Linked DNA regions of Homo sapiens: region 2 is linked to region 1. Evidence: fine-mapped expression QTL. Tissue or cell type: fibroblasts. Region 1 holds a variant in brackets; the other region holds the start of a gene. All regions are shown on one strand. Distances are between the middles of the regions.

Region 1 (8,175 bases):
TGCCGGAAACCTGCCACCTGCTGGGGTGGGGAAGGGAACCATCTGGCTATGTGGCCTGGGGGGGTGGTCTGTCACCCTACCATGCTCTTTCAAGTAATCTTCCTGCTTCCAGCCCACCCTGCACACACCACCTTTCGAAGCACTCCATCCCCAGAGCCCCCATTCCTTTGCCTTTTCCACCTGCCTCCCCCATGGCCCAAGACATTGGACATTCTCCACTCAGCTTCCCTCTCGCCTATCGGTTTCCTGTCCTGCAAAGGTTTTGTTCATACCACCCTCCTCAACCATTTACTTTTCTAGTTTTTTTTTTTTAAGAATTTACATTTTTTCTTATTCCTTTACTTTCATTTTAGTGGGATTTTGAAACAGAGCAGAGAAATACATATATGTTCGATTGTTATGTTTATGTCAAAGTCTATAATAATACTTACTAATAAATAAAAGTCAAGTTTTAAAAGGTGCAGACACAGGTCAGGGCGTGGAGGCTGACGCCTGTAATCCCAGCTCTTTGGGAGGCTGAGGCAGGTGGATCCCTTGAGGTCAGGAGTTCGAGACCAGCCTGGCCAACATGGCAAAACCATGTCTCTACTGAAAAAAAAAAACCACAAAAATTAGCTGGGCATGGTGGCGCACACCTGTAGTCCCAGCTACTTGGGAGGCTGAGGCAGAAGAATCGCTTGAACCCGGGAGGCGGAGGTGGCAGTGAGCTGAGATTGCATCACTGCACTCCAGCCTGGGTGACAGAGCAAGACTCCATCTCAAAAAAATTAAGTAAATAAATAAATAATAAATAAAAGCTACAGACAGAATTCTCTCTGAGGGGTTTGGGGGAGGATACTCCAACGAGGAAACAGTGGTTTTCTCTGGTGCGGGGTGGGGTGGCGGTAAGATGATAGACGAGTATGCTTGTATGTTTTTGGTATTTTCCAAACTTGACACTAATTTCCTATTTTTATAAATAAAAAAGCATGAGGATTAAAAATATTATTAAAAGGCATTTTCTGAGACAAAGATCAAGTCAGTATAAATAGATGTGTGGAAGAAATTCTAATCCTCCAACAGGGGTCTACATGATCTATGGCTTTTGCTTATGTGCAGGGGAGCGCTGGGGTTCCAAAGAAGCACCCCAGGCCTTCAGAGGTAGGTGGGAGTGGGACAGGGTGCTGAGCAGAAGGAGTTCTGGGCTAGTTTCTCTTACAGTGGCTGTTTTGATCTGGTTTATAGGTTAAAATTCTGCTTTATATTTTGATTTATTTTATTTATTTATTTTTTTGAGACGGAGTCTCACTCTGTCACCCAGGCTGGAGTGCAGTGGTGTGATCTCGGCTCACTGCAACCTCCGCCTCCTGGGTTCAAGTGATTCTCCTGCCTCAGCCTCTCGAGTAGCTGGGATTACAGGTGCCCACCACTACGCCCAGCTAATTTTTTGTATTTTTAGTAGAGACAGGGTTTCACCATGTTGGTTGGCCAGGCTGGTCTCGAACTCCTGACCTCGTGATTCGCCCACCTTGGCCTCCCAAAGTGCTAGGATTACAGGCATGAGCCACGGCACCCGGCCTATATTTTGATTTTTAAAAAGAGATCCGCAATCATCAAACAAGTTTGGAAAGTACCAATGAAGATCTAGAGAAAATGAGGCTGAGGTTGGGGAAAAAGCCTTTAAGGACGCCACCGCGCTCTAACCCCTGCCCCTTTCCATCCTGAAATGACAGTAGCGTCTCCAGTGGAATTCTGGGTACACACAGAATATGTTATGCACCCAGAGAGCTTGCAAGGGGACCGGCAGGTCTCGCAGTCATGGAGCTCCCAAGCCAGACCCAGCTATTCCAGGCCCCCAGATGGGTGTGGTAGCCAACGTCCAGCCAGTGTCGGTCTCTGGCCTCAGTGTCCTCATTTGCACCATGAAAGGACTGCATTCATCTTCTAAGCTAATGTCCTAGAAACTCTGAAGAGCATCCTCTTACTGAGACAGTGACTGCCAGCTCTCTGAAGACACAGAACGGCCCCACCTAGGGACTCCTTGAGAAGCAACACTGAATTATAAAAATTCAATCCATTTCCTCCAGAAAACTTTTAATATTTCTCTCCCCAGTCAGGCGAGTCCAACGCTACCGTGGCCAGTGTGAGTCAAATACCAAATGCTGCAGCTTAGTAATGGGCTCCAGGACTCCTCAAAGCAAAGCCATTCCTTCTTTTCCCAGGCAGCAGCATCTCTCTCCTGGGAATGGCTGAGGTCTAGTTCACTTCCCCATTCATTCGCTCCTAGCACCAATTTGGGTCACTCTCTTCCTCTGGGTGTGCTAGTCCTACAGAGAAGTCTTCCTTTGGCTGGAGAGTCGGGGAGGATGGGTTTGTTCACATTCTTAACCTATCTACAAAATAACATCTCCTTTCCCTTCCCCCACACACTTGGCCCGTTCCCCCAACCTACCTCTCTGGAATAGTCCAAGAAAGACCAGCAAAGCCCCCTCCGCCTGGCAGATTAAAGATGCTTTAGAATCAATGAGTGTCATCCCGCCCTGGCCTGACTCCTTATCTGTTGGGGAAAAGAAAGAAAGAAAGAAAGAAAACTATTTTAACAAGAGAGAATTTCAGAAACCTGTGCATTCTCTTACAGGACGTTAGCTCAAAATCAACTGCTTCATCTAGGTCTCTCCTTTTTGCAAACCAATCACATTCCACTTGATCGGCCTTTCTTGCCATCTGCGTCAATGCCACCCCCAGCTCCCTTTGGTGGTACTGAAACCAACCACAGGAGCATTTCCAGTGCCTGGAGCAGGAATGTGCACTCAGATGACTCAGATCGTTTTTAGAGCTGTTTGTTGGTTTTGTTTGGTTTTTTGAAAGCAAAGTAATTGATCTGAGCCAAGCCTGGGTTCGAGTTCCATTCGATGGATGCAAAAAGCAGGTTGGTGAACTTGAAATCTTTATTCCCCATGTGGATCTGTTTTCAAGGCCCAGGTCTAAAGGAAAATTCATGCCCTATTGGGCTGGAGATAAAAAGGAAGAGTGTGAGGGGAGGGGCCGCCCACTCCTTGCATCTGTGGTGCTTCTTCCCCCACCTCAGCCGCTCCAGGAAATAACAGAACCCCAAAGAGGGAAAAAAGACACTAGAGCTCCAGCCCAGTCTAAAGACCCAACCCCTTCTCCCAACCCCAGGCCCTGGGCATAGCTACCTCCACAGCTGGGAGCCTTCGGCCCAGAGCCCACTAGGTGGGCTTCGATTTAGCACAACACCAAAACCACCGGCTTCTCCATGAGTCAAACAGCAGAGCCCTAGGAACCCGCTGGAAAAGGCATGGGTTGCAGGAACACATCTCCCAAGGACCAAGCTGGAGTCCTCCCTGCGGCCTCTATCCCTGCAAAGATGCTCCGGGGACCCTGCTGCGGGAGCCCAGGCATGCGGGCTCGGATGCTCCCTTCCCTCAAAATCCAGGGGACAGTGGCAAGCACTTCGCAAGGCACTGCCACCAGAGAAACAGGAGGTCAGCACCAAAGGCTAAGGAAGAAATCCCTTCCATTGCTGACCAATTAAGTGACTGGCCAATACCCGTTACCACGACAAATTATAGTAGCTCTGGCACAGGGAAATGAGACAGGATCATAAGGAAAGCCCTTTCAAAACAGGAAAAACAAAGCCAAAAGCAGAGGGAGCCGAGAAGGAAGAGAAGGAGAGAATTCATCCTCAGGAATTCGGGTCAGGAAATAAGGAGCCAGGACAAAATCCACAAGAGGGCGGCCAGGGAGAAGGCGCTCCCCCGGGGAGGAAGCCGCAGGACCTCAGGATCTGGGTCTGCCACCCTCTAGCCCCCTTGGGCTCAAGGGCACAGCTCGGGAGGGACAGAGCGCAGGAGGCTCCGTCCCGAATAGGGGGCAGGGGGAGGGGAGGACGCGCACAGCCACTGCTGGGTCCCCGACAAGTAAACAGCCTGCCCCGAACAGGCGCGTCCTCGTGCGAAGCCCGCTGGAGGCCTCACGGATCCCATCAAGGGCGGCAGCGGAGAAACCTGGGATTCCTGACCCCCGGGGGGCACAAAAGGAAGCAACCAGATTAGGAGAGGAGAGCGTCGCGCGGCCCATAGCTGAGAATCCCACCGCGAACGCAACCCCCTGCCTCGGCCCCCC[A/C]AGCCCCCACGGCCCCGGACCCCTGATCGCCTCCACCGACCCTGCCCACCCCGCCCCAGGCGGACAAAGCCCGGGGCTGGGCGGGGTGGGACGCCCGGCGGGGCTGGGGGCGGGGCACGGGGACCCCGCAGACGCCCGCACAGGTGGGCTCCGTACCGGGTGTCGCTGCCGGGGGCGGGGCCCGATCTCCCTGGAGACAGTTGCCCAGGGGACACAGCGGGCGGGTCCCGGAGTGACGGGAAGACGCCAGCCTCCGGGCAGCGGCGCGGGGCCGGCGGGGGCCGGAGGGCAGGCCCGCCGCGCGAGGTGCAGGCAAGCGGGGCTCGGCGGAGGGGCGCGGCCCGGGGCGGGGCTGGGACTACTGGCAGGCGGGGCGGGGCGCCGGCTGGGGGCGGGGCGTCCTCGGGGCTGGGGCGGGGCCGGGGCCGGCGGCGGCGCGGGCACCGTCGGCAAATTCTCACACCCCCAGCCGGGAGAAGCGCCCGAGCTCACACGGGCGGCGGAGAGAGGAGTGGACGCTGCAAATCCTCCCCGACCCCCGCTGTTCTCGCCCGGAGGCCCAGGACGCTGCCAGGCGGGGCCCTTGGGGTTCGCACCCTGAGCCCCAGAGCAGCCGCGGGACCCCGACGGCGCGCGCACGCTGGCTCTGGCCTAGGTTTCACCTTACAATCAATAAATAGAAAGCGCCACCTGCAAAGCAAGGGAGGGCTGGTCGTCCACCAAACTGCTTTCCGCTCCCCGCTTTGCAAGGCATCCGCAGAAAGGGCGGGGTACTGGACCCAGGTCACAGAGCCGGAGCCAGACTCACTCGAGTAATTGGCCAGCCCGGGCTCTGGGCTCAAATCCAGCCTGCTGGCTGTTCCCTAGCTGATGGGCCTTTCCATCGGGGGTTCCCTTATATGTGAGATTTAGAAAATAAATGAGTGTACCTAGCACTTTCACTAATGCATCTATCCATTACAACGGGCGGTGTGCGTGCAGTAACAACACCGAGACAATCCTTGTCCCGCACTTAAAAAAAACTCTGGGCGCTCCAGTGTTTTTGTTTTTGAGACAGGGTCTTGCTCTGTTGCCCTGGCTGGGGTGCAGTGGTGCGATCATAGCTCACTGTAGCCTCTACCTCTCTGGCTCAATCGATCCTCTCACCCCAGCCTCCCGTGTAGCTGAGACCTCAAGTGCGCACCACCTCACTCAGCTAATTTTTTAAAATTTTTTGTAGAGGCGGGGGTCTAACTATGTTGCCTACGCTGGTCTCGAACTCCTGGGCTCAAGCCATCCTACCGCGTCAGCCTCCCAAAGTGCTCGGCCAGGCGCTCCAGTTTTTATCCAGGCATCTACACTGTAAGATAGATGTTGTTCTCCCTTGGTTGTAAGTGGGGAAGCCGAAGCTAGGCGGGCAGGGACTCTCACCCTCACGTACTCACACAAACACTGTCTGCACAGCCTCTTGGGCAGAGCTAGCGCTGGCACCAGTTTAGTTTGGTGCTGAAACCATACCCCTCTTGCTCTGCAAGAGCCCATCTCCCCTTAGAATATTCTTTCGGGTCCACAGCCCAAGACAAACCTTTGCCACAGGGGAACGCAGAGGAGGAAGCGGGGTGCGAGCACCAGAATCAGCCCTGGCGTGTCCCGCGGGGTGGTAGAAGGTGGTTTGAAGAACACTCCTTGGTGGTCCTAATTGCTGCACGTGAGGTCAAGGCAGGGCCGCCCATCCCAGGCAGATGAGCTCCAGGAGCCTTCCTCGTGCCTGAGAAGACGGCAAGGAGAAAACACTGCCGGCTGGAAGCCCTCGAGAATCTCGAAGAAGCCCAGAATGAAAGGACCAGGCGGCCGGGACTCGGAGCTCCCTAGCCAGGGCGCGCGCAGCCAGGCCTGACGCTTCCCTCCGCCCTCGGCGGCCTCTGCGTCCTCCCAGCACCCGGCAGCCTTGCCAGGGGTCCCGGATGCCCAGAGCACCCCCCAAGGAGGAGAGAGAAGAGAGGGAGTCCAGGATGAGAAGACGGGGGGCCAGGGTGGGAGGGGACACTCCTCTTCCCTGGCCGTCCCTAGAAGTCACACACAGACATTCACTCAAAAAGACACGCATGCAGATGCGCACACACAGACACAGGCGCAATCATGTAAACGGACACACAGAGACCACAGACGCTCGTGCTCATACACGCGCTCTCGCTCTTCACACCCTGCACCAGGTGGGCACTCACCCGCCCGCACCCTGGCTGTGCTTTCACAGATCCCGGGAGAGGGCGGAGCCCGGGCCGGGGGCTGGAGACCGCCCCCGGCCCCGCCCCCACGCCCTCCCATCTCTCCCTCCTTCCTGCCGTCCCCCGCCTGAGGGAGGGGAGCGGTGCAGCAGACATCCGAGGGCAGCTGGGACCCCCTGACTCAGCCGACGGGTGAGTCAGGCTCCCTGCAGGCCACACCGGACCCCCCCAGGGCGGGGATTTCCCCAAGATGAGAAATCAGCCACCGGAAGTCACGCCGGACCTTGGACGGGCAGACAGAGGCTGGGAGGAGTTCTGGGTGCAGAGCCCCCCAACCTGGTAAGTACAATGATCCCAGGGCTAGGACACCAACGAGATTTTCCAAAGGGCAGACGAGCTTCAGCGGTTCCTCCACCCCCATTCCCCACGTGTGGGAGCCCTCCTCCCTAGCGGCCCCGTCCTGCAATCGTCCCCCTGCGCGAAGACTTCCGTTTATCTCCAGCATGGATGGAGGGAAAGTCAAGCTCAAACACAAGGTCCCCATCAGCAATGGAACCCAATGATCCGCTGGGGGTTCAAATTGGGGGTGTCAGGCACGGGTGTCTCTGGAGCCCAGAGAAAAATCCAAGATTCTTTGAAATGGCAAAAGCCCCCAAAAGTGACTTTCTTGTATTGCCACGATGAACTGGAACTGCCCTGACAAACTCTAAAAAGATAGAGACCTTAATAAATTGTGTAGAGAAGAATTAAAAGAGTGAATACAGATGCATGGAAAATCTCTAGAACAGTGCCTGGCACTCATATTAAGTATTGGCTCTCACACATGGATAACAGACACAAGGAGACCAAGTGACTTGCCCCAGGTGGCACAACTAGTTAGTGGCAGAGATGGAGGAAAAACCAGTCTCTGATTCTTTGTTCACAGCTCAGGTACCTTCAGTCCTTTCTGAAATTAAGTGAGAGTATAAATAAAGTCATTTAGTGGATAAATGAATTTTACCACTGTTAAATATCAGAGTAGACCTGGCACAGTGGCTCACGCCTGTAGTCCCAGCACTTTGGGAGGCCAGGGCAGGAGGATCACTTGAGCCCAGGAGTTCAAGACCAGCCTGGGCCACACAGTGAGACCCCCGTCTCTATTTTAAAAAGAAAAGAAAAATCAGAGTAAATTAAGGCGGGCACGGTGGCTCACGCCTGTAATCTCAGCACTTTGCGAGGCCGAGGTGGGAGGATCATTTAAGGCCAGGAGTTTAAGAACAACCTGGGCAAAACAGTGAGACCTCGTCTCTACTAAAAAAAAAAAAAAAAGAAAATTAGCCTGGCATGGTGGCATTTGCCTGTAGTCCTAGCTACTTAGGAGGCCAAGGGAGAAGGATTGCTTGGCCCAGAAGTCTGCGGTGAGCTATGATGGAGCCAAGAAATTAGATTCCTGCTCCTCTACTTGCTACTAAAAGGGCCAATCCTCTTGTTAAATCCCAAAACATAAGGCAGGAAACCAAATGAGCCTCTGCTCCCACTCATTGGAGCCCTTGTTCCCTTCAAGGAGCCCTAGAAGATGGAAGAGTATTTGCTGCATCAGTCACTTCTCCCTCTCCTGACACTTTGTGATGTGTGATTTCATCACACTTTTGCTGTGATGAAATCTCAGCTTCTCCCAAATGCTCACCAATATCCTAGCCTCCAACCTGGCTGGAATTCTGCTATTCTCTTTCTAACTCAAATTGGCATTCAGCATTTCTAGGTGTGGTCAGGTAAGACACCACTGCTGAGTGGGGACAAGACCAGGAAGGCTAAAGTCAGAAAAAAATCAGAGGCAAAGCCAGGCACGACTGAGGGCGCCTGTAGT
Region 2 (8,175 bases), 38 kb after region 1:
TCACAGGCCCTAGGGACTGTGCTGGCCCTCAGGGAGGGGAGAATGGCCGTTATTTTGGTAGGACCCACAGCAAGTCACAGTGTTTAGCTGCAATAAAAAAGGGGGGGGGGCGGGGGGTTCCTGGGTTTTTTATTTTTTCCATCTTGAAACTGGCAGCATTTCTGCTATGATTGCCGGGGATTTCCACCAACCAAACTAAAGACAACTCAGTCTTAGCGTTAACTGTAGGGAGAGAGGTGGCGTTTTGCCACCTTCGCTATTTATGAAACACTGTCACCGGTACCAAGATGACAATATTTTCCTCCCTTTCAAACAAGCCAGGCTCTGCCATCCTCCAGTGGATAGGGCCCTTCCTTGTCTCCTCCATCCCGGGGTACTGCTTCTAGACCATCTTCTCTAACAGCTTTGCTGAAAAACACACTTGTCCCCTGGGGAGTAGCTGAAGCCACCCTCCTGGCTGAAAGAGCTTTTTTTTCTTTTTTTTTTTTTTGAAATGTAGTCTCACTCTGTTGCCCAGGCTGGAGTGCAGTGGCACAATCTCAGCACACTGCAACCTCCACCTCCCGGATTGAAGCGATTCTCCTGCCTCCACCTCCCAAGTAGCTGGGATTACAGGTGCTCATCACCACGCCCAGCTAATTTTTTTTTTTTGCATTTTTCGTAGAGACAGATATTCACCATGTTGGCCAAGATGGTCTTGAACTCCTGACCTCAAGTGATCCGCCCACCTCGGCCTCCCAAAGTGCTGGAATTACAGGCGTGAGCCACCGCGCCCAGCCTGAAAGAGCCTTCTGAAGGTCCCACGTTAAGGAAACATTTGCTGGGGCCCCAAACCCCACCATCAGGCCCACACCGGCAGCTGGCCTCAGGGAGGGCGGGAACTGCTCTCTACACAAAAATGGTTTTGAAAATAACCCAGCCAAAGGGGAATTGCTTCATCCGTTGCACATTCACTTCTCCCTTTCACTGTGCAATTTAAGTAAAACAAGATGAAGCAGGAACCGACTCTCACCATCCCCACTCCCACCTCCATGAATTCCATCGGACAGTTGTGCGAAAGCGGGCTGGCTTTCGCACAACCATTGGTGGACTGTCTGTCCTGTAAGCCCCCCAGGGGCTGATGCCCTCCCAGTCTGCCTGCCCTGTTCTTAGCACAGCCCCTGGCACCCCGTGTGATCTCAGGAAACACTTGCTAAACATGGTATCGGAGGAGAAACGGAGCCCACAGCTTAGTGCAAAGACCTGGCGGCGTGGACTGAGGCTGCAGAAACGCAGAAACGCGCTTTTCCTGCCAGAAGGGGACATCTGCGTGGTCGGGAGTACCTCTGGGGCACGTGCCCTAATTCCAGAAACATCTAAGTGAGTAGTGTGGCCAATGTAGTCTGTTTCTGAACAGGGGCTGAAGGGCGGGGGAAGTGGGGCTCAGAAGGAGGCTAGCTTAGTTGTCTCTGGAGCAGGCAACTGGGTTGTTGTATTATGTTTCTCAGAGATGGGCTCTTGCTCTGTCACCCAGGCTGGAGCGCAGTGGCACTGTAATAGCTTACTGCAACCTTGAACTCCTGGCTTCAAGTGATCCTCCCGTCTGGGCCTCCCAAAGCACTGGGATGACAGGTATGAGCTACCGCTCTCAGCCACAACTGGGTTTTAAGAGCACTCCTCCAGCCCACTCCAGTGTCTTCCATCATTCTGTGAAAGCACCAAAAGAGGACCAAGCCCAGGAAGCCGCCAGCAGGCCTCTCACCAGCCAAGATGGCTGGAATCCTAATATCAAGAAATGAAACTCCAGCAGGCCATGGAAATGCTAAGGGGTTGGCATTTCTGCTCTAGAGAGAGCCAAAGAGAAAGCTCTATTTATATCTCCTTGCGTTTGGTCGCAGCCTCATCAACCAAAAGAACCTTCCGCCCCACTCAACACATCAATCAAATTGGGGAGGGGGTGTGAACAGCAGCAGCGGGTGTTACAGAGGAGTCTCAAGGGTATCTTAGAGGGTGCCTCTCTGAACAGTCGTCCCCTCCAAATCCCCCCCAAGAGAATTACTAGGACATTCTCCTTCCCCCGCAAGCAACGGCACCCCCAGATGATTAAACGCGCTGGCGTCGGAAAGAGCTGGGATCCTGGAGAAACTACTTGTAAACTGTGTGGGTTGGTGAGTTATTTAACTTTTCTGAGCCTTCGTTTCCTTAACTGTAAAATGAAGACAACACCACTCAGCTCCTACAGTTGTCCAGCTGAAATCACCTAGGTAAGAACGACCAGTTCTTTGGGGAGTAATGTCCCGATGGTACCATTCAATTGTCAAGAACACCAAGGCACCGTCAGGCACCCGGGCGGTATCCCACTCTCCTGGAAGAGAGCAGGGGGTTAGCCCTTGGTTTCAAAGTCCCTAGGGAGCAGTAAACCTTCCCCTCCGAGAGCCCTGAGAGAGGAATAATTGCCCCTTCCCACTCCAACCCACGGCACACCCGCCCACATCCACGTGCGGCTGTGCCCAGCATCTCAGAGGTAGGACTTCTCAGGAATCGGCGGGAAGAAGCCCCCTTGATGGAGTCTGGTGGGGTTCAAGATCTGCAGGTCCCACCTTCCAGGGAACACCTGCACAAGTGAGACCTGCCCGATCAGCCCCGCGCTCCATCCGCAAACTGGGCAGATCCCAAGGGTGCCACGCGAGGACCCTGCACCTTGGCCGCTCCAGGGCGCCCCCCACCCGCGACCCCGGAAATCTCGCCCCTACCTGCTTCACCCTCGCCCCACCCACAGCGCACTTTTCGGGACCTCCCAGCGGCCCTTCCCCGGTTCTCTGGACCCCCGTCTCCCCGCCCTGCAACGCCCCCATCCTGGTGCCCACGAAAGGTCGTCCCAGTTCCCCTCTTCTCTACCTCAAAGGAGGAGGTGCAAATGAGGAAGCCTAAATAAAAACAGGAAACTCGATTTTTTTAAAAAGCCTCATTCAGGCTGAATTACGGGTAAGAGTATTTTTTTAAAAAGTCCGGAAATGCAAAGCTGGGGGCGGTTTTGCCGGCGTAACCCCGGCTCGGCCGCAGATCCGGAGCTGATCTCGCCTGCGCCGCTGCAGCAAACGCGGCGAGCAACGCGGGAGGCCCGGGACTGGGAGGCGGGGCGCGGGTCCACGAGCCGGGAGGAAGCCCCGAAAACTTCCACCCCGGCCCCTCTGCAGCCCCGCTCCCCACTTGCCCAGGCTGGGAAGGGCGCACAGGACCCGGGCGCCGGCGAACTGTGCGCAGCCCTCTCTCCGCGCCAGGGCACTCGGGCGACATCACCAGCGCGCTCTCTGTGGACCCCGCTGCCGTACAGAGGAGGCCCCTGGTCCTCTAGTCAGCGCTCGGAGCGGGCGCACGCGCTGAGCGCTTCCAGTATCCTCGCGCCTCAGCCGGCGCACCGGAGGCCGCACCGCCGCTGTGAGCGCAGCTGAAACCCCGCTGCCGGGCCAGGCGGGCAAGGCGCGCAGTGCAGGCGCCGGGGAGCTGCGCACGCCCCTCTCGGCGGGCCCACGGGGGACGGCCCCGGGCCTCTAGGGCAGCCCCCGCCCAGGTCCCAGCAGCCCGGCCCCCGGGGCTCCCAGGACCCGGCTCGCTAGACTCGGGGAGGCGCCCAGGGCCAGGGCGCACGGGCTGTGTGTGCCGGAGAGACGCCCGCCAGCCAGCCCCGCGCCCCCGAGCGCAGCCGCAGCTCCCAAAGCCCCTGGCCGCGGTCCTCTTCCCACCTCCCCTGACGCAGCCAGCGGCGATCGCTTACCGTCCCGGCGCAGCTGGCAGGGCTGGGCGGCTCTGCTCGCGGCCGCTCGGAGCGACTGCGCTGGGCGCGAGTGAGCCTCGAGGGAGGGAGGCGGGGCGCGCCGGGGCGCCCCGCCTGCCGCCAACCCGCACACTCCACTTCCCACTTTGTTTCCTTTTCACTTGCAACAGGAAAAACAACAGGTCCTCCAGGGCCTCGCCTTCCCCCGCCGCCCACACTCCCCAGTTCGCCTACCGCTAGAGGGGCATCATCCCAGGTGCCTCTGGAAGCTGCACCTTGCTTGCCCTTCTACAAAACAAGTTTTCTTTTTATGCAAAGGAAAACAACGAAATAAAGGTCCTAGGCGCCTTTAAGCGCTCCGCCTTCACGCAGGAAAGAATTTCAGCAGGAGCGGGAGAAAGGCTGAGAGCAGGAGAAGAAGAGGGGGTAACCTGCAGCTCTAGGCACCCAGGGACCCCAAGCGCCATTGCGAGGTGACCAGTGTTGGGGCTCAGGACACACACCCAAAATGTGACTATGGGAGACCAGCGTGTGCCACCCCAAAATATACTTCTTCGCCATATTTTGAAGGGATTATTCTTAGAAACTGCAGGCACAGGAGTAGATCTGAAAAGCTGTCCTTTTGTAAAATGATTTCTATCTATAAAGAAAATCTCCAGGCCTGGCACTGTGGCTCACTCCTGCAATCCCAGCAATTTGGGAGGCCGAGGCGGGAGGATCACTTGAGCCCAGGAATTCAAGCCAGCCTGGGCAACATAGGGAAACCCCCGTCTCTACAAAAAAATTAAAAATTAGCCAGTCGTGGTGGTGCACACCTTGTAGTCCCAGCTACTCGGGAGGCTGAGGTGGGAGGATGGCTTGAGCCAGGGAAATGGAGGCTGCAGTGATCCATGATGGCACCACTGCACTCCAGCCTGGGAAACAAAGTGAGACCCTGTCTCAAAAACAGAAAAGAAAAGGAAAATCTCCATTGGTAAAGTATTAGTATCAGGCGGAGGGCTGCTCAGAGCTAACTTTTCTTACCTGAGAAATTTTATCCGCATAAGAAGACAAGCTTCATTCACCTTACCCTCTCTCCCCTCACTCTCCCTTAACTTGTGTACCACCTCCCCAGGATCCCAAGCCTCTATTCCTTTTTTTCTTTTCTTTTCTTTCTTTTTCTTTTTTCTTTTCTTTTTTTTGAGACAGTCTTGCTCTGTTGTCCAGGCTGGAATGCAGTGGTGCCATCTCGGCTCACTGCAATCTCTGCATCCTGGGTTCAAGCAATTCTCCTACCTCAGCCTCCCAAGTAGCTGGGATTACAGGCACACGCCACGACACCCAGCTGATTTTCATGTTTTTTTGTTTGTTTTTTGTTGTTTTGTTTCTTTGTTTTGTTTATTTTGAGGAATCTTGTTCTGTTGCCCAGGCTGGAGTGCAGTGGCGTGATCTTGGCTCACCACAGCCTCAGCCTCCTGGGTTCAAGCAATTCTCCTGCCTCAGCCTCCTGAGTAGCTGGGACTATAGGTGCACACCACCGTGCCTGGCTAATTTTTGTATTTTTAGTAGAGGTGGGGTTTCGCCATGTTCACCAGGCTGGTCTTGAACTCCTGACCTCATGATCCACCCGCCTCAGGCTCCCAAAGTGCTGGGATTACAGGCGTGAACCACCACACCTGACCCAAGCCCTATTCCTTTCTGAAGGAATGTTTCCTGTCCCTTGTAGGATGTTATATGAGCTTTATTCATCTGAGCCTTCATCCAGTCTTGTATTTTGTGGGATTCCCATGCATAGGTCTTAGTTACACATGGTTTTTCTCTTGTTAATCTGCCTTATGTAAATTTAATGTGGAGCCCAGCCAAGGAATTTAGAGGGTAGAGGGAGGCCACTCTCTCCTCCCCTACAGCAGGCATGACTGAGAGGCTCGGGGAGACAGCCCAGGGCCTAAGTCCCTCCTTGCTCAGCCCTGGGTTGACAGCAGCGACCTCCAGGCTTTGGTGGACCAAGAGTATGGGGGTGGTGGGTGAGCCCACCCCTGAGATTACAACAGTGGCTTCATGCCCTCCCAGGATAGGGTGAAGGGTGAGCCAGTCAATTGCTTAGTGAAACAATGGCTTAAAGGACCCTCTTCAATCCAGCCTGGGAAGTAAAGCAGCTGTTATTGGTCCCTTGGACAGATGAGGGATCTGAGGCTTAGAGAAGGACTTTTTCTACCCAAGAGATGCCTGGGCCTCTCAGGACCACCTTGGGCCCCGTGCTGGCTCCAGAGGCTGCAATAAGCAGAGGCCCAGGCCAGGCATGATGGCTCAGGCCTGTAGTCCCAGCACTTTGGGAGGACGAGGCTGGAGGATCCCTTGAGGCCAGGAGTTTGAGACCAGCCTGGGTGATATGGCAAAACCCAGTCTCTACAAAAAAATAGAAAAAATTAGCCGGGTTTAGTGGTGTGCACCTGTAGTTCCAGATTCTCGGGAGGCTGAGGTGGGAGGATCACCTGAGCCCTGGAGGTTGAGACTGCAGTGAGCCATAACTGTGCCACTGCACTCCAGCCTGGGTGATGGAGTGAGATTCTGCTTTGAAAAAAAAAGAAAAAGAGCGAGAGAGAGGCCCAGAGGCCGTTATTCCAGCCAGGAAAGGGGAGAGGGCTTGGGTAAGATGGAGTGGCTTGCTCAATTGTTCCAGTTTTTTTTGTTTTTGCTTTTTTTGTTTGTTTGTTTGTTTGTTGAGACAGGGTCTTGCTCTGTCACCCAGGCTGGAGTGCAGTGGCATGATCTTGGCTCACTGCCACCTTGGCCTCCCGGGTTCAAGCGACTCTCATGCCTCAGCCTCCCAAGTAGCTGGGACTGCAGATGCGTGCCACCATGGCTGGTTAATTTTTGTATTTTTTAGTAGAGACGAGGTTTCACCATGTTGGCCAGGCTGGTCTCACACTCAGGCCTCGGGTGATCTGCCCGCCTCAGCCTCCCAAAGTGCTGGGATTACAGGCATAAGCCACTGCGCCCGGCCTGGTCCAGGTTTTCTAAGATGCAGGCTGCAGATTCTGTGTTCTCCAGTGGACACTTGCAGAGGAGCCAGGAAGGACCACAGGTCCCTTTTGGAAGGAACGTTGGGCCTGTCCCCAGGAATGCACACTAGTATATCCTTTCTAGTGGAGTGTCTGAGGCTCACAGCCTCTTGCTTACCCCAGGCTCAGATTACTGAGCCTTAGCAGCGGTCTCTAGCCTGTTTCAAGGATGCCAAGAGCCAGAAGACAAATGGACGTTTCAGAAGGAACTCTGACGGCCGAGTGAGCAGCCTGTCCTGAGGGAGCGGCCCGTCCTAAGGTTTCCTAACACCTGGCCTTAACCATGCTTTTGCTAGGCTGCACTTTCAACGCTGCCCTCTGGTCTTTAGAGTTTGTTTCAAGAAACAGCCAGATGACGAATGGTTTTGCATCTTCCAAAGGAATTCTTCATTGAATATGTATTTGCTGACAGCAATTCAAATCATGCTTTTTACTATGCAAGATGCTGCCGGGAGAATGGAGGCATGCCAAGTTGTCAAGCGCTAAGATGTGCCTTACATATTGTTCTCTTTGATCCCCATGAAGGAAACCAGAATATGTCCCCCCAAAATATACCTCTTTGACGTAAATATTTTTGAACTTAAGGCAATTAAGAAGCAGCAGGCAGATGAAGAGATCTTTCTATCATCTCCCCTTTTCTGCCTGTTAAATAAAATTTGCAGGAGGCCATTGATTGGGACAAGACCCCTGTACCGGGTCCAACAGACCAAACCAATATGGAGTCATTCATGGTAAATGAAACTAATTAACTTAAGAGTATATACATGTAGCAAATAGCTGAGTTTTTGTCAGTTATAGCAGCTGAGCTTTAGTAGATCTTAGGTGGCCAACTGATTCAAACAAAGCAAACACTGTAACCAATTAAGCTCTATAGCTTACTTCTGTTTTACATCCATAAACACTCTGACTGTGTTACTGGCTGAAGCCCTTTGAACCTGTCCTGGTTCTGAGGGACTCCCAATTTTAGACTCATTAGTAGGCCAGGATGACTCACACCTGGAATTCCAACACTTTGGGAGGCTGGGGCTAGAGGATCAAGACCAGCCTGAGCAACATAGTGAGACCTCATCTTTACAAAAAATAAAACATTAGCCAGGCATGGTGGCATGTGCCTGTAGTTTTAGCTACTTGGGAGGCTGAGGTAGAAGGAGGATCCCTTGAGCCCAGAAATTCAAGGTTGCAGTGAGCTGTGATCTCACCTCTGCAATCCAGCCTGGGTGACAAAGTGAGACCACGTCTCTAATAATAATAATAATAATAATAATAATAATAATAATAATTAGAATCATGAATAAAAGTTAAGATCTGTAAACTAGATTTGTTGTAATCTTAACTTTTAAAAGATGATTATTGTTTTATTATTATTTTGAGACAGGGTCT

Alleles and levels. Alleles are on the strand shown, and positions count from the first base shown. SD is a standard deviation of normalised expression in the study named.
As copies of C replace A in region 1, the expression in fibroblasts of the gene that starts at base 3,826 in region 2 goes up (small effect, 0.18 SD a copy in GTEx).

What was found. PIP is the estimated chance that this variant, and not a neighbour inherited with it, causes the effect.
Region 2: PIK3CD starts here. The variant in region 1 is fine-mapped to the expression of PIK3CD in fibroblasts (GTEx, PIP above 0.99). The same link has a PIP of 0.9 or more in sigmoid colon.

What each region holds. Positions count from the first base shown.
Region 1 is chr1:9,685,828-9,694,002 of GRCh38, reverse strand. PIK3CD (phosphatidylinositol-4,5-bisphosphate 3-kinase catalytic subunit delta) reads right to left here. Exons shown (of 24, transcript NM_005026.5): 2 at 2,432-2,536. PIK3CD-AS2 (PIK3CD antisense RNA 2) reads left to right here and starts at 6,429. Exons shown (of 2, transcript NR_126367.1): 1 at 6,429-6,668. RefSeq lists enhancers at 3,019-3,700, 3,701-4,384, 6,505-6,674 and silencers at 4,229-4,788, 5,795-5,989, 6,315-6,454. The variant A/C (reference allele first, on the strand shown) is at 4,126.
Region 2 is chr1:9,647,382-9,655,556 of GRCh38, reverse strand. It overlaps PIK3CD (phosphatidylinositol-4,5-bisphosphate 3-kinase catalytic subunit delta), which reads right to left and starts at 3,826. Exons shown (of 24, transcript NM_005026.5): 1 at 3,755-3,826. It overlaps PIK3CD-AS1 (PIK3CD antisense RNA 1), which reads left to right and starts at 971. Exons shown (of 2, transcript NR_027045.1): 1 at 971-1,359; 2 at 1,514-2,947. RefSeq lists enhancers at 1,584-1,633, 2,774-2,843 and a silencer at 3,024-3,913.